Regions from separate parts of the Homo sapiens genome. Here region 1 is linked to region 2. Evidence: fine-mapped expression QTL. A gene starts in region 2. The other region holds a variant in brackets. All regions are shown on one strand. Distances are from middle to middle. Region 1 holds the start of CDKN2B-AS1 (CDKN2B and CDKN2A antisense cis and trans regulatory RNA 1). Region 2 holds the start of CDKN2A (cyclin dependent kinase inhibitor 2A).

The links.
Region 1: its variant is fine-mapped to the expression of CDKN2A in esophagus muscle (GTEx, PIP 0.99).

Annotation. Positions count from the first base shown.
Region 1 is chr9:21,990,776-21,999,905 of GRCh38, reverse strand. It overlaps CDKN2B-AS1 (CDKN2B and CDKN2A antisense cis and trans regulatory RNA 1), which reads right to left and starts at 5,115. Exons shown (of 19, transcript NR_003529.4): 1 at 4,745-5,115. It overlaps LOC124902130 (a long non-coding RNA gene), which reads left to right and starts at 5,878. Exons shown (of 2, transcript XR_007061436.1): 1 at 5,878-6,020; 2 at 7,426-9,130. It also overlaps a transcript of CDKN2A not described here. RefSeq lists silencers at 4,662-4,861, 5,182-5,441. The variant A/C (reference allele first, on the strand shown) is at 4,861.
Region 2 is chr9:21,970,374-21,979,503 of GRCh38, reverse strand. CDKN2A (cyclin dependent kinase inhibitor 2A) reads left to right here and starts at 4,647. Exons shown (of 3, transcript NM_000077.5): 1 at 4,647-4,826; 2 at 8,296-8,602. The coding sequence starts at 4,677. RefSeq lists an enhancer at 4,090-4,139 and silencers at 4,320-4,419, 4,640-4,689.

The DNA of each region.
Region 1 (9,130 bases), 20 kb before region 2:
ATGCATATTTGGAAAACATGAATGGGATCATACTATTCTGTCACTTGCTTTCTTTAATTAGCAATAGATCTTTGACAACTTCCATTGTCAGTGCATATAGATGTGCTTCATTATTGTTTATGGATGCACAGTTTTATTATTTTATGAATGAGCCCTAACAACAACAACAACAAAAAAAGTCTCCTCACAAGCATGTCAATCATTTTTCTCTTTCTTGCACTTTGTTTGCTAATACACACTGCTATAAAGAAACATTTCTGCATACTTATACAAGTTATCTGTAGCAATTTATATAGGAGTGAATTGCTTTAGCTGAAGTTACATATCTAAATGTGTCTGTAGGTGTAAAATCTATCCATATATACATATGTATCCATACATAAAATACATATATACATATGTATGTATATATATGTGTACATGTGTATACATCTTCCCATACTTACAGATATGTGTGTACATATGTGTATATAAAGATATGTATTATATATGTTACATACATGAGTTATAGGAATAGAATTGCTGAGTCAAAGGGTGTATATAAGTATATAGATATATACACAAACATATAACATACATATGAACTATATATACTATATAGTATATATGTGTATATATATTTCCATACATTATTTGTGTGTGTCTTTACATACTTAAAATAGTGGAATAGCTGAGTCAAAGGGTACCTATATTCTCATACAGTTTTGACTAGATATTGTAATGCTGCCTTTCAAAACAATTACACCAAGTTGTAATAGTAAGAGTGATTGTTTCCTGACAACTTTGTCAAAGTAGTCTTTTTTCTTTTTGCCACACTTGTGGTTATATGCCATTGTTTCTGTTTACATTTATTAATGAGTAAGATTATCTTTTTATTTTTTACTATTTGCACATATTCTACTATAAACTATTATATCCTTTGCCTTTTTTATTGGATTGTTGTTTTACTGGATTATGTATTTATTTATATAGTCTAGTAATTAATCTTTTGACATATATGATCAAATAATTGTTTTTTATTCTTGCTTATGTTATCTTTTTTCTTATGACTTTGGGGTTTTGAGTTTGAGCATGTGCAATGTTAGGAAAGTTTCTCATGAAATTTGGATAATCAAGAGTTACCTAAGGGATAAAGCTAGTGTCATAGGACATTAAGTTTGGGGAGGAGGAGAACAAGACAAGGGATATTCAGTAAGATTTTTCTCCCCTATCCCTGCCTATGGAATGAATTTGCTGATCTAAAACAGAAAATTATTTACCCCTGTTAAAAAAAACTCAATTAACTCAGGTTTTTAGGCCAGTGGAAGAGAACCCCAAAAACTTCCAATATTCAGTGATTCTGTCTGCATAAGTGACCCACAGATAACTCACTCCCTATTGACCCTGGCCTTTGGGACAACAGAAAAGGCACAAGGCTTGTAACCCAAAGGCCTGCCTGATGATTCCAGCCCTGGCTCTTGCTGGCCATGAAGTGTTCAAGATTTGAGCCTTTCTAGGCCTCATTCTTTCCACCTGTAAAACAGGAGTAATAATCCCAATTTTGAAAGGCCACTGTGAGGATAAAATAAGTAATATAAGTGAAATTACATGCTCAGTTCTTCATTATTAATTTTTTGAAGAGCACATAGCCAATAGTCACTCCGCATTCCAAAAGTATTTGGAATACCACATACCCATTGTTATGCTAGAAAGAGTCATCTTCACCATTGTATTTTGCTGAGACTAATATTAAACTTAGAATTCCCCTGCATACTGCAACTGAAAGAGAACAGGTATTGGGCAGCGGCAGTGGGGGAAACCAAGATGGAATTTAGATGTTCAAACTTTAATATTTACATTTTTTGAACAGAGAGCTTACTATATAATTATCCTTTTATTCAGATGGCATTCCTCTGAAATAAGCAATTACCCTTATCCCTAGGTCTAGTTCCTGTGGAGAGAAAATGATTATACTTTGAGCTATATGGCTCCAATAAACAAAGATAGATCCCTCAATTTAAATTTGATCCTCAGAAAACTGAGGGTCAGAGAACCCCTCAGGCATGACGGGATAATGTGACAGTTAATTTGGTATGTCAACTTGGCTAGGCTGTGGTACCCAGTGTTTGAGTCAAACACCAGTCTAAATATTGCTGTGGAGGTATTTTTTAGATATGATTAACATTTAAGTCAGTAGACTTGAAAAAGCAGATTATCCTCAATAATATGGGTGGTCCTCATCCAAGCAGTTGAAGAGCTTAAGAGAAATGACTGAGGTCCCTCAAGGAAGAAGAAATTCTGCTTCCAGATTGCCTTTGGATTCAAGTCTTGCAACAACAACTCTTCCCTGGGTCTCCAATTTGTCAACCCCCACCATTTTCTGAGACAATTCCTTAAAATAAGTATTTTCTCTCTTTCTCTTTCTCTCTCTCTCTCTCTCTCTCTCCCTCCCTCTCTTTCTCTCCCCCACATATGTGTGTGTAGACATATAATGTACGTATATATAAAATTGTATACACACACAGAGTCATGTGCTGGATAACGATGCTTCAGTCAACCACAGTCACATATTGGTGGTGTCCCATAAGATTATAATGGATGTGAAAAATTCCTATCCCCTAGTGATGTCATAGCTGTCCTAAAGTTGTAGCACAACATACTACCTTTTCTATGTTTAGATGTGTTTAGATATAAAACTACATTTTGTTACAATTATCTACAGTATTCAGTATAGTAACATGTTGTAAAGGTTTGCAGCCTAGGAGCAATAGCCCATACCATACAGCCTAGATGTATAATAGACTATACCACCTAGGTTTGTATATGATGTTTGCACAACAATGAAATCGCCTAAAGATACATGTCTGAGAATGTATCCCTGTTGTTAAGCAACCCCATGACGGTGTGTATATACATATACATATGTGTGGTACTGGCACGCACACACACACAATGGGTTCTGTTTCCCTGGAGAACTGACTGATATAGATAGCGACTTCAAAAGATGTTTAATACGTGCCTTTTCTCCTTTCCCCACCATGCTTTATTGCAACAACTAGTTACATTGTCTAGGCCCAAGAAACCCTCACCGCTCCCACTCCATTCCTCCAGTATCTTTAAATGACACTATGCTGGCATCCGACATCGTTTTTCTTCCAGGATGAACTAACCCTTTCTAAAGCGCCCTTCCTCTGTGGGACAGAAAACCTAATGCCCCCCTACAGAGGCGGAGGCCGGCTGAAGGTGGTGGTAGGAGGGGAATGCTGGGGGCGTGGCATAGGTGCAGAGGAAGACCCATAAAAGGATCTGGTTCCCATAGAGCTGACATTCTACACAACAAACAAGTAAACAAGTACATAAGTAAAATAATCTCTTCGTCCTAAGTGCTATAAAGAAAAAAATCACGGTGGTATGAGGGTGCCTGAAAAGGGAAGCATTTCTGAGGAAGGGCTACTTACTTCAGAAGAGACCTGAAGGAAAAAGAGCTATATTTGCGAAGAGGGAGAAAGAGCAGCCATACTAGACAGAAAGGTGGCATGTGGCCCCAGCACAAAGCACGGTGTTGGGTAAATTCTGAGTGAAATCTACCTACCGGGGAGGTGCATTTGTAAATATCTAGATAGATATTTAGAGTGGCTACGTAAGAGTGATCGCTAAATCTCACTTTTTCCAAAGGGCCCCGTTTTGTCTTGGGTTTGTACCGAGGTCCGGCAGCAACGTCAAGTGATGGGGCGGGGGATGGGGAAAGAGAAGTCTGCCGCTCCTCTAGGCTACCGCACCGCCTTAAGTGGGTGGCTCGGCCAGTGCAGGCCTCACTTTCCTCCCCTGTAAGGTCTGGGGGGCTTGACGTCTGATCTGTAAGGCCCTGTCGGCTCACGCTGTGGTTCCACTTCTTCAACTAGGCCACTAGGCCCAAGCGCATGAACAGGAAGCCACTGAGAAGCGGGCCACATTTCCAGGTTCCCGGAGCTGGGCCTAGTCCCGAATCCTCTGGCACACACCCACCCACTCAGGCCGCGGGTCCAGCCCGCGAGGTTTAGGACGGATCCAGGCAGACCGCAGGCTCCGGGTCGGGGCACCGGGTCAGCGCGCCGGCCTGAAGGCGGCGTCCTGGGCTCGACTTCCCGCGCGCGGAGAGCCGGCGAGCCCGCGTCCGAGTTCCTGGACGAGAGCCGAGCCTCGCTTAGACCGCGCTCAGGACCCGGCTCCTCCGCATTCTCCGGCTGCCCCTGTGTCCTCGACTCACCCCTCCTTTCTGCCGCTCCTTCCTTTCCTTGCCCTGCTTTTACTGTTCCCAAACAGGACCGCTTTTCCTGTCTCCCAGCTGGAAAGGAGGAAGGGAGAGAGTCCAGAAAGGATCGGTGATGTGGAAGAAAAGGGGAGGAGGGGACATGGAGGGGGAGACCGGAGAGAGAACGTACGCCGAGGAGTCAGGCGGCGGGATCAAGGGGAGTCGGGGTGTCTGGGCGCGGGGCAGAGCGTGGAGGCGGCAGCGGCCAACGGTCGCCAAGACAACCATTCTACGCGAGGACGCGGCGACAGGAGGGGAGCGGCCAGCAGGGGAGGGGAGCGCGGGGGAAGAGGAAAGAGGAAGAAGCGCTCAGATGCTCCGCGGCTGTCGTGAAGGTTAAAACCGAAAATAAAAATGGGCTAGACACAAAGGACTCGGTGCTTGTCCCAGCCAGGCGCCCTCGGCGACGCGGGCAGCTGGGAGGGGAATGGGCGCCCGGACCCAGCTGGGACCCCCGGGTGCGACTCCACCTACCTAGTCCGGCGCCAGGCCGGGTCGACAGCTCCGGCAGCGCCAGCGCCGCGCCGTGTCCAGATGTCGCGTCAGAGGCGTGCAGCGGTTTAGTTTAATTTCGCTTGTTTTCCAAATCT[A/C]GAAGAGGAGCGGAGCGGCTTTTAGTTCAAAACTGACATTCAGCCTCCTGATTGGCGGATAGAGCAATGAGATGACCTCGCTTTCCTTTCTTCCTTTTTCATTTTTAAATAATCTAGTTTGAAGAATGGAAGACTTTCGACGAGGGGAGCCAGGAATAAAATAAGGGGAATAGGGGAGCGGGGACGCGAGCAGCACCAGAATCCGCGGGAGCGCGGCTGTTCCTGGTAGGGCCGTGTCAGGTGACGGATGTAGCTAGGGGGCGAGCTGCCTGGAGTTGCGTTCCAGGCGTCCGGCCCCTGGGCCGTCACCGCGGGGCGCCCGCGCTGAGGGTGGGAAGATGGTGGTGGGGGTGGGGGCGCACACAGGGCGGGAAAGTGGCGGTAGGCGGGAGGGAGAGGAACGCGGGCCCTGAGCCGCCCGCGCGCGCGCCTCCCTACGGGCGCCTCCGGCAGCCCTTCCCGCGTGCGCAGGGCTCAGAGCCGTTCCGAGATCTTGGAGGTCCGGGTGGGAGTGGGGGTGGGGTGGGGGTGGGGGTGAAGGTGGGGGGCGGGCGCGCTCAGGGAAGGCGGGTGCGCGCCTGCGGGGCGGAGATGGGCAGGGGGCGGTGCGTGGGTCCCAGTCTGCAGTTAAGGGGGCAGGAGTGGCGCTGCTCACCTCTGGTGCCAAAGGGCGGCGCAGCGGCTGCCGAGCTCGGCCCTGGAGGCGGCGAGAACATGGTGCGCAGGTTCTTGGTGACCCTCCGGATTCGGCGCGCGTGCGGCCCGCCGCGAGTGAGGGTTTTCGTGGTTCACATCCCGCGGCTCACGGGGGAGTGGGCAGCGCCAGGGGCGCCCGCCGCTGTGGCCCTCGTGCTGATGCTACTGAGGAGCCAGCGTCTAGGGCAGCAGCCGCTTCCTAGAAGACCAGGTAGGAAAGGCCCTCGAAAAGTCCGGGGCGCATTCGGCACTTGTTTTGTTTGGTGTGATTTCGTAAACAGATAATTCGTCTCTAGCCCAGGCTAGGAGGAGGAGGAGATAACCGCCGGTGGAGGCTTCCCCATTCGGGTTACAACGACTTAGACATGTGGTTCTCGCAGTACCATTGAACCTGGACCTCCCTTCACACAGCCCCTCAATCGTGGGAAACTGAGGCGAACAGAGCTTCTAAACCCACCTCAGAAGTCAGTGAGTCCCGAATATCCTGGGTGGGAATGACTAAGACACACACACACACACACACACACACACACACACACACACACACACAGTAGGAAAGGTGTATTTCAAGCACACTTTCTTTCTCCTTGGGGAGAATTATTGCTAACCATCTAAGTTTTCTGGAGGCGGCCTTTTTTCTCCCCAGCCTCCCGGCGGGGTCACCCTCTCCCACCTTCCAGGAGAGTGGAGGACCCGTGAGATACGGGGCACGCAGGCAGCGACTTCCTGAAATGCTAACAAGGATCGTAGGATCAGTTACTGCTGCGAGGAGCAAGCACTTGCTTCTTGGGGGAGTTTTGCAGCCAACAGGGAAATGGGCTTTCTTTGTGAGTTAGAGGTAGAGGTCCGGCGGCCTGAGTGATTGAAACTGCTCGGGACAATGCTCGTATGTTTAGCAAACGACAGAACTGTAGAACTGTTCCTGAGAAATCCCAACTGATAGTATTTTAGTCATCTCAGACGACAGTTAGCACAGTTTAAAAATGAGGCCTACTTCTTGAAAAACAGAATCCAAGGTAGTTTTGTCCTCACATTGACAAATGTTGACACAGCCAGTGTAATTTCCTATAACCAGGAAAACTGAAAGAATATATGTACAGTTAAAATATGTACAATGCTAATTAAAACTTGTGTAATAAGTCTAAAAGTAATTTAATGAGGCTTCACTTTTATGACCGTCCTTGTGGTATGCTTCGCCAGGAATATATAGCTTCAAAAAGCAAAGGCCAGCGGAGGGGTAATTATTTTTTTACTGCAATGTTAATTGTCTCTTTGACATGGAAATATAAACCTGTTAAAACTATCAGTGTTTAATTTAGTGTCTCAATTTCTATTAGCAAAAATTTATAATCTATAGGATAAATGCACATTTTATTTTTTACTTTTCATATTATGCAAGTTAATTTTTTTAATTTAGTCAAAGGAGCTTATAAAGGATTTCAGGGCCTGTTGCTGGATTTGATTTTAATTCATTTTGAAACATTGACAAGACCCTGGTTGTTGTTTTTTTTAACAGTGGTTTATCCGTATCAGCAAAAGTTTAGCCACTGTGACCGGTAACTGTATGAATATAGTTCTTAATATTATTGTCTATATAAAAATATTTATTACTCTAGTTAATATTATTCTATATAAAATCATTTTGTTTAAATTATTAAGTTGCCTCTGAAAATCTGTAGTAACAAAGTAGAACATGTCAATGTATATAAATGCCATAATTATGTATTTTTTAGTTTAGGCCTATAAAACATAACATTGTGGTGATTTTAAGTTAGAGAAAATATTTTATAGTATGTTAATGTATATGCATGAAATGCAAAAATATTTAAATGATAGGTTCATTGAAATAGATCATTTTTTGTTATTTAGGTATAAATCAATTTTCAGGACGTATGTGAAAAGCGCAATCTTCAGGAAGTTTCTCAAGATAGAACACAGCTTGGATAGAATGTCTTGAAATATATGCAATTTTCCAATTTCATATGTAAAATGATATACATAATATAAAATCTAGCGGTGTTAATTATAATGATATGTAATTATATATTTCACATTAATATATTTTATGCCCATGGCTATATTGATTTGGGAATATATATGGATACTAATTATGTTAGGATTCATACAATTCCTTGAGAGGCACAAGTGCTAAAAATTACTTGTATGAATTATTTAATATCATTGCAAATAAGATGTTATTTTAACTTTTTTTAAGTTTCTGCAAATATGTTTATTATGACTTTTTATTTTTATATGATTGGAAATACATATACTAAAATTCCACGTTACCAGTTTCTTAACCACAGAAACCTGAAAAATTGCCATAGTTGATTTGTTACTTCTACCTTGGTGCATTTACAAAATAGTCATATTTTTATTATGAAGTTAAATATTCATTTGTTTATAGCTACTTCAGAAGGCTCAGGTTATTTTTTTCTTTAATAGCACAGAGTCCTCTCAAGGTAAGCACTGTGCAGTTAGTATAAACCATTATTCCCCATGTGTACATGATTCACAGTTTGTATTGTGTTCCAAGTGAACCATAGCCCTTTCAGAAATCAAGACTTATATTCATTTTACTTCTTTGAGTACTCTTGAATTTTAGAAAGTCCATTATGATCCTAAGGTAGCAACAACATAGCCTATTACCGTCTATGATGGTTTACAGATCTATTATTCCACGTTAGTTCATCACTATCAACTACCATGATAGAGTTAAGCTAAACCATTTTCCCAACATATGAAAAACTCCTATTACTAAAGTGATACAAATGGTATCAAAAATACTTTTTTATAGCAAGGTTCAACAGTGGGCCCAGTGCTTTTACACTTTTTCAAAAGTCCTTGGAGAAACAGAGAAAATCTCACTTGCCTTCTGTACTAAAACATTCTAGGCCGAACTAAAACTGAAACTTCATAGTAGAACACTGTAGGCCAGGGGTGTTCAATCTTTTACCTTCCCTGGGCCACATAGGAAGAAGAAGAATTGTCTTGGGACACACATTAAATACACTAACACTAACAATAGCTGATGAGCTTAAAAAAAAAAAAAAACTCATGATACTTTAAGAAAGTGTATGAATTTGTGTTGGGCAGCATTCAAAACCATCCTGGGCTGCATGTGACCCTCGGGCCCACAGGTTGGACAAGCTTGCCCTAGCTCCTCCATCTGCTGCAAAGCCCAGCCTGATACAAAAACCAACGTGATAAAAAGTTTTTGTGGTGCTTTATTTTGGCAGTTTAAGTTATATAAACAATGGGTACAGTTTCATTTTCTAAATATAAAATTTTTACATTGAATATGAATTTTTAAGACAAATTATCTGAATTCTGATTCTCATATACCTAACTACTAATATCTTCTCTATTTGTTGCCCAATGAGATTAATCCACCTCTTAAACACTTCACCATCAAGAAAAACAATTTTGTATTTTAAAATGAACCCATCCACTTTCATTCAGCTATTTTATATTCAGGCATCATCCTAAGGAAAGAAAGGTTCTGACAAAGATTAATACAGATGGATAAGTAGTAGCAAGAAATCAAAAACTGCATAAAATTCTAGCAATAAAG
Region 2 (9,130 bases):
CCTCAAGTCCTCAAAAATATCCTATCTTGCCTGTGTACTTAACTTTTCTTTTATTCTTTTCTAACTTTCCCTTCTCTTCACTTGGCACTTGCCCTTCCAGGTATATGTGTGCTCAGGTCTCCTCCACCTTCCATCTGCCTCACTTCATGGCATAGGGCCTTGAACTATCACAACCAAGCTATGAAAGAGTAGTCAACGCAGTGTCCCCACTTCCTTGCCATCCCATTATCCTAGTTTTTCTTTTGGCTCTCTGAGGAGTCCTTCACAGGCTGGTTTTCAGGAATAAGTCTAAATGAATCACTTTCAGTTTTCCTAAACTTCTATGCCTTTGCACATCCTCTTACCTCTGCCTAGAATATCTTTCTCCTTCTTTTCCATCTTTAAACTCTCACATCATTCTTCAAGACTGGGATCAGCTCTCAGCATCCGGAAGCCTTTGCCTACTAGAGACAAATGAGAATGAGTTTGGTCACCTTTTCATTTTCTTGTATCATTCTGTGCTTTATTTTGCTCTTCTAAGAGCGTTACATGCTTCATTTAATCCCTAAACAACTGTTTGAGGCAAGTACAGTTATTATCCTAATCATGCAAATGAGAAAACAGAGGCCCAGACATGTTGAGTAACTTTGATAAAAGTTAAAGAACCAATAAGTGGAACAGTTGAGGTTTGAACCCTGGCAGTCTGACTGTAGAGATACTATGTTTGACCTACTCCCCTCTGCCCCCACCCCATGTCTGCCCTTAGTTTCTGAGCTTGTTGAATGAATGAACAGGTGGTAGTCTTTTTTTGTTATAAGACTGATCAGAATTAAGACAGGTTTAAATTTCACGTGTAGAATTTTCAAAACTGCAAAGGCAGTGCAAATCTAAAAAAAGAATGGCATTCTCAGGAAAGAGGAAAAGTAAGTGTGAGAATAATAATAACAATAACCAACAAACTTTAGTAAATTTAGTAAATGTAGTAAATTTTTACATTAAAAGCTTTTGGACATACATTATCATATTTTATGGCCACATGAAATATATTATAATCCCATTTTGCACATAGGAAATCTGAGACTGGCATAAGGAGCACAGAGATCCAGGACTTTATATTTTCATTCTTCTAGGATTTTGCACCTCAGGTCGATATGTATGAGTAAACTGGGAGTATAATGGGCTCTTTAACAGAAAAACTAGGAAAGTTTTCCCACTATTATTAATTATTTACATAATATTTTTTTAATTTTATTATTATTTATACTTTAAGTTTTAGAGTACATGTGCACAATGTGCAGGTTTGTTACATATGTATACATGTGCCATGTTGGTGTGCTGCACCCATCAACTCATCATTTAGCATTAGGTATATCTCCTAATGCTATCCCTCCCCCCTCCCCCCTACATAAGATTTATAATGGATAATGGACTTCAATTTCTAGAGCAAAATGGCCCCACCCAAGGATGCCATAATCCTTCCAGAGCTCTACTGCAAGATATGAGATATACATATCTAAAACTTGTTCTTGGTATTTCCAAAGCAGTCAACTTTTACACCTGTTTATAATGCATCCAAATGTTGTTTTTATATGGTTGCATCTCCCATCTTCTTCACCAATAGCTATATATATTTTTCACAAGAGCTGAAAGAGTTCTTGATGTAGGAATCCATGGTAGAGTTTCAGAGAAATCCCTGAATTCACTGAAAGTTTTATCTAGAAATACATGTGCAAGTGAACACATCTTTTTTAAAAAAAATCATTACCTACTTTCTTTTTTGAGAAGAAGGTATTTATTTCAACAGACTCTTGAAGGAGCCTACTCTTCCCACTCTCCCACCCCCATTAAGAACCACTGTAGGCCGGGCACGATGGCTCATGCCTGTAATCCCAGCACTTTGGGAGGCTAAGGTGGGTGGATCACCTGAGGTCAGGAGTTCGAGACAAGCCTAGCCAACATAGTGAAACCCCGTCTCTACTAATAATACAAAAATTAGCTGGGTATGGCAGCATGTGCCTGTAATCCCAGCTACTCGGGAGGCTGAGGCAGGAGAATTGCTCGAACCCGGGAGGCGGAGGTTGCAGTGAACCGAGAGAGATCGTGCGGTGCCATTTCACTCCAGCCTGGGCAACAGAGCGAAACTCCATCTCAAAAAAACACACAAAACAAACAAACAAAAAGAAAGAACCATTGTATTAGTGATGGAAATGTGTTCCCTCCCTCCCATCCTGGCAACCACTTTCTTCCTCCTCCATCATAAAATATCTTAAACTAAACTAAAATAATTTTATTTATCGATAGTTTGAATTTTCCCTATCATTGCTACACAGCTAATTGAGAGGTACCCCGAGGAAAATATAAATGGTACAGTAATGCATTGTAGATTTTAATAACATACTTGACATCCCAAATTGTTTTCATTGGCTTCATTTTAAAAACTACATGTTTTAAAATCAAGCAGACACTAAAAGTACAAGATATACTGGGTCTACAAGGTTTAAGTCAACCAGGGATTGAAATATAACTTTTAAACAGAGCTGGATTATCCAGTAGGCAGATTAAGCATGTGCTTAAGGCATCAGCAAAGTCTGAGCAATCCATTTTTTAAAACGTAGTACATGTTTTTGATAAGCTTAAAAAGTAGTAGTCACAGGAAAAATTAGAACTTTTACCTCCTTGCGCTTGTTATACTCTTTAGTGCTGTTTAACTTTTCTTTGTAAGTGAGGGTGGTGGAGGGTGCCCATAATCTTTTCAGGGAGTAAGTTCTTCTTGGTCTTTCTTTCTTTCTTTCTTTCTTTTTTTCTTGAGACCAAGTTTCGCTCTTGTCTCCCAGGCTGGAGTGCAATGGCGCGATCTCGGCTCACTGCAACCTCCGCCTTCTCCTGGGTTCAAGCGATTCTCCTACATCAGCCTCCGAGTAGCTGGGATTACAGGCATGCGCCACCAAGCCCCGCTAATTTTGTATTTTTTAGTAGAGACAGGGTTTCGCCATGTTGGTCAGGCTTGTCTCGAACTCCTGGCCTCAGGTGATCCGCCTGTCTCGGCCTCCCAGAATGCTGGGATTATAGACGTGAGCCACCGCATCCGGACTTTCCTTTTATGTAATAGTGATAATTCTATCCAAAGCATTTTTTTTTTTTTTTTTGAGTCGGAGTCTCATTCTGTCACCCAGGCTGGAGGGTGGTGGCGCGATCTCGGCTTACTGCAACCTCTGCCTCCCGGGTTCAAGCGATTCTCCTGCCTCAGCCTCCTGAGTAGCTGGAATTACACACGTGCGCCACCATGGCCAGCTAATTTTTGTATTTTTAGTAGAGACGGGGTGTCACCATTTTGGCCAAGCTGGCCTCGAACTCCTGACCTCAGGTGATCTGCCCGCCTCGGCTTCCCAAAGTGCTGGGATTACAGGTGTGAGCCACCGCGTCCTGCTCCAAAGCATTTTCTTTCTATGCCTCAAAACAAGATTGCAAGCCAGTCCTCAAAGCGGATAATTCAAGAGCTAACAGGTATTAGCTTAGGATGTGTGGCACTGTTCTTAAGGCTTATATGTATTAATACATCATTTAAACTCACAACAACCCCTATAAAGCAGGGGGCACTCATATTCCCTTCCCCCTTTATAATTACGAAAAATGCAAGGTATTTTCAGTAGGAAAGAGAAATGTGAGAAGTGTGAAGGAGACAGGACAGTATTTGAAGCTGGTCTTTGGATCACTGTGCAACTCTGCTTCTAGAACACTGAGCACTTTTTCTGGTCTAGGAATTATGACTTTGAGAATGGAGTCCGTCCTTCCAATGACTCCCTCCCCATTTTCCTATCTGCCTACAGGCAGAATTCTCCCCCGTCCGTATTAAATAAACCTCATCTTTTCAGAGTCTGCTCTTATACCAGGCAATGTACACGTCTGAGAAACCCTTGCCCCAGACAGCCGTTTTACACGCAGGAGGGGAAGGGGAGGGGAAGGAGAGAGCAGTCCGACTCTCCAAAAGGAATCCTTTGAACTAGGGTTTCTGACTTAGTGAACCCCGCGCTCCTGAAAATCAAGGGTTGAGGGGGTAGGGGGACACTTTCTAGTCGTACAGGTGATTTCGATTCTCGGTGGGGCTCTCACAACTAGGAAAGAATAGTTTTGCTTTTTCTTATGATTAAAAGAAGAAGCCATACTTTCCCTATGACACCAAACACCCCGATTCAATTTGGCAGTTAGGAAGGTTGTATCGCGGAGGAAGGAAACGGGGCGGGGGCGGATTTCTTTTTAACAGAGTGAACGCACTCAAACACGCCTTTGCTGGCAGGCGGGGGAGCGCGGCTGGGAGCAGGGAGGCCGGAGGGCGGTGTGGGGGGCAGGTGGGGAGGAGCCCAGTCCTCCTTCCTTGCCAACGCTGGCTCTGGCGAGGGCTGCTTCCGGCTGGTGCCCCCGGGGGAGACCCAACCTGGGGCGACTTCAGGGGTGCCACATTCGCTAAGTGCTCGGAGTTAATAGCACCTCCTCCGAGCACTCGCTCACGGCGTCCCCTTGCCTGGAAAGATACCGCGGTCCCTCCAGAGGATTTGAGGGACAGGGTCGGAGGGGGCTCTTCCGCCAGCACCGGAGGAAGAAAGAGGAGGGGCTGGCTGGTCACCAGAGGGTGGGGCGGACCGCGTGCGCTCGGCGGCTGCGGAGAGGGGGAGAGCAGGCAGCGGGCGGCGGGGAGCAGCATGGAGCCGGCGGCGGGGAGCAGCATGGAGCCTTCGGCTGACTGGCTGGCCACGGCCGCGGCCCGGGGTCGGGTAGAGGAGGTGCGGGCGCTGCTGGAGGCGGGGGCGCTGCCCAACGCACCGAATAGTTACGGTCGGAGGCCGATCCAGGTGGGTAGAGGGTCTGCAGCGGGAGCAGGGGATGGCGGGCGACTCTGGAGGACGAAGTTTGCAGGGGAATTGGAATCAGGTAGCGCTTCGATTCTCCGGAAAAAGGGGAGGCTTCCTGGGGAGTTTTCAGAAGGGGTTTGTAATCACAGACCTCCTCCTGGCGACGCCCTGGGGGCTTGGGAAGCCAAGGAAGAGGAATGAGGAGCCACGCGCGTACAGATCTCTCGAATGCTGAGAAGATCTGAAGGGGGGAACATATTTGTATTAGATGGAAGTATGCTCTTTATCAGATACAAAATTTACGAACGTTTGGGATAAAAAGGGAGTCTTAAAGAAATGTAAGATGTGCTGGGACTACTTAGCCTCCAATTCACAGATACCTGGATGGAGCTTATCTTTCTTACTAGGAGGGATTATCAGTGGAAATCTGTGGTGTATGTTGGAATAAATATCGAATATAAATTTTGATCGAAATTATTCAGAAGCGGCCGGGCGCGGTGCCTCACGCCTTGTAATCCCTTCACTTTGGGAGATCAAGGCGGGGGGAATCACCTGAGGTCGGGAGTTCGAGACCAGCCTGGCCAACAGGTGAAACCTCGCCTCTACTAAAAATACAAAAAGTAGCCGGGGGTGGTGGCAGGCGCCTGTAATCCCAGCTACTCGGGAGGTTGAGGCAGGAGAATCGCTTGAACCCGGGAGGCTGAGGTTGTAGTGAACAGCGAGATGGAGCCACTTCACTCCAGCCTGGGTGACAGAGTGAGACTTTGTCGAAAGAAAGAAAGAGAGAAAGAGAGAGAGAAAAATTATTCAGAAGCAACTACATATTGTGTTTATTTTTAACTGAGTAGGGCAAATAAATATATGTTTGCTGTAGGAACTTAGGAAATAATGAGCCACATTCATGTGATCATTCCAGAGGTAATATGTAGTTACCATTTTGGGAATATCTGCTAACATTTTTGCTCTTTTACTATCTTTAGCTTACTTGATATAGTTTATTTGTGATAAGAGTTTTCAATTCCTCATTTTTGAACAGAGGTGTTTCTCCTCTCCCTACTCCTGTTTTGTGAGGGAGTTAGGGGAGGATTTAAAAGTAATTAATACATGGGTAACTTAGCATCTCTAAAATTTTGCCAACAGCTTGAACCCGGGAGTTTGGCTTTGTAGTCCTACAATATCTTAGAAGAGACCTTATTTGTTTAAAAACAAAAAGGAAAAAGAAAAGTGGATAGTTTTGACAATTTTTAATGGAGACGGGAGAAGAACATGTAGAAAAGGGGAAATGATGTTGGCTTAGAATCCTAACTACATTGGTGTTTAATATAGGAACATTTATTTATATAACATTTTAAAGTACTAAATTCATATTAGTATATTATCAAATGGATATATTATCAAATGGGTTTAAGCATCCTACACATTTTAATTCAATTGATTCATTTTCTTTTTGCTTTGGATTTCTATCATGATTTAAATATTTACATATGGGTTACTTTTTAGATTTTTCATACTATGAAATATAAGAAAAACCTTTAAGGCTAGTTTTATGACCAAGACGAAGGACTTCATTGAATACACAAAACAATAAATATACTGCAACATTTTGTCTTTCTTTTTGTAGCTGCAATTTGGTTTGCTTATACTTTCTCTTTGTCTCTTTGAAAACTGAGTCAGTTTCACTTTCTCAGGACAGGATTTAATAACCATAATATAATTTAGTATAATTCCTTGATTTAGGCAAATTATGCAATTTGTGTTTAGTATGAAATGTACCTAAAAATAAGTAACTCCTCTTTAACACCACCATCCTCAAACTAATATAACAAATAACAGTTATCCTAAAATAAATTGTCTACTTCCACCATGCAGCACTCAAATTTTAAGGTTGCTATGACTGCAGACAGTATTTTAAAATTCCTCTCTGGAAATGGCTTTGTTTCCAAGATGATTTAGGAACCAAAGAGGTGACCATCTCTTGTTTAATGAACTCTCAAATCATAAACCTGGGAAGTGTTTTAGTTTCCTACTGCTGCTGTTACAAATTATCACAAATGTGTTAGCTAAAACAAACACAAAATTATTATTTTACAGTTCTAGAGATCAGAAGTCAAAAATGGGTCCACAAGGTTTCATTCCTTTTGGAAACTCTAAGGGGCAATCTGTTTCCTTGTCTTTTCCAGCTTCTAGTGACCATCAAATTCCTTGGCTCATGGTCTCTGTATTTTCTCTGTGGCCTGTGCTTCCATTCTTGTATCTTCTCTCTGACTGTGACCCTCTAATAAAAACACTTGGGGTTATGTTGGGCCCACCCTGAAAATTCTGGATAATCTCCCTCAAGACCATTAATTAAATCACATCTGCAAAGCCTCTTTTGCCACATAAGTTAATGTATTAAAAGTTTTTGAGGATTAGGACATAGACATTGGGGGTGGGGGGGCATTATTCAGCCTACCACAGGAAGGAATTTTAGGGTTAATTAAACTAGCCTTCTTATTTTATACTTGAAGAAATTGAAGTTTTGGAATTGGAGAGCATTATGCTAAATGAAATAAGCCAAACACAGAAAGACAAATATCACATGTTCTCACTTATCTGTGAAATATAAAACAATTACATTCTTAGCAGTAAAGAGTAGAATGGTGGTTACTAGAGCTGGGGGGTGGGAGGAATGGGGAGATGGTAATCAAGATATAAAGCCTCAGTTAAGATGGGAGGAATAAGTTTGATTGTTTTTTTTGAGATGTGTTTCATAGCATGATGAATATAGCTAAATAGTAAATCCCAAATGCTCTCATTTGACAAAAATGTCAAATATTTGAGATGATGGATAGGTTACTTAGCTTGACTTAATAATTCCCCATTGTGTTCAAAGATCATAACTTCATATTGTACCACATAAATATATACAACTGTACTATCCCAATATATAATTTTAAAACTAATATAATGAAAAAGAAATTGAAGTTCAACATTCCCAGAAGCTAAGTGTAACTTAAAAGTTTTGTGAGAATTTGTTTTAACAAACAAACAAGTTTTCTCTTTTTAACAATTACCACATTCTGCGCTTGGATATACAGCAGTGAACAAAAAAAAAAAAAAAAATCTCCAGGCCTAACATAATTTCAGGAAGAAATTTCAGTAGTTGTATCTCAGGGGAAATACAGGAAGTTAGCCTGGAGTAAAAGTCAGTCTGTCCCTGCCCCTTTGCTATTTTGCCCGTGCCTCACAGTGCTCTCTGCCTGTGACGACAGCTCCGCAGAAGTTCGGAGGATATAATGGAATTCATTGTGTACTGAAGAATGGATAGAGAACTCAAGAAGGAAATTGGAAACTGGAAGCAAATGTAGGGGTAATTAGACACCTGGGGCTTGTGTGGGGGTCTGCTTGGCGGTGAGGGGGCTCTACACAAGCTTCCTTTCCGTCATGCCGGCCCCCACCCTGGCTCTGACCATTCTGTTCTCTCTGGCAGGTCATGATGATGGGCAGCGCCCGAGTGGCGGAGCTGCTGCTGCTCCACGGCGCGGAGCCCAACTGCGCCGACCCCGCCACTCTCACCCGACCCGTGCACGACGCTGCCCGGGAGGGCTTCCTGGACACGCTGGTGGTGCTGCACCGGGCCGGGGCGCGGCTGGACGTGCGCGATGCCTGGGGCCGTCTGCCCGTGGACCTGGCTGAGGAGCTGGGCCATCGCGATGTCGCACGGTACCTGCGCGCGGCTGCGGGGGGCACCAGAGGCAGTAACCATGCCCGCATAGATGCCGCGGAAGGTCCCTCAGGTGAGGACTGATGATCTGAGAATTTGTACCCTGAGAGCTTCCAAAGCTCAGAGCATTCATTTTCCAGCACAGAAAGTTCAGCCCGGGAGACCAGTCTCCGGTCTTGCCTCAGCTCACGCGCCAATCGGTGGGACGGCCTGAGTCTCCCTATCGCCCTGCCCCGCCAGGGCGGCAAATGGGAAATAATCCCGAAATGGACTTGCGCACGTGAAAGCCCATTTTGTACATTATACTTCCCAAAGCATACCACCACCCAAACACCTACCCTCTGCTAGTTCAAGGCCTAGACTGCGGAGCAATGAAGACTCAAGAGGCTAGAGGTCTAGTGCCCCCTCTTCCTCCAAACTAGGGCCAGTTGCATCCACTTACCAGGTCTGTTTCCTCATTTGCATACCAAGCTGGCTGGACCAACCTCAGGATTTCCAAACCCAATTGTGCGTGGCATCATCTGGAGATCTCTCGATCTCGGCTCTTCTGCACAACTCAACTAATCTGACCCTCCTCAGCTAATCTGACCCTCCGCTTTAT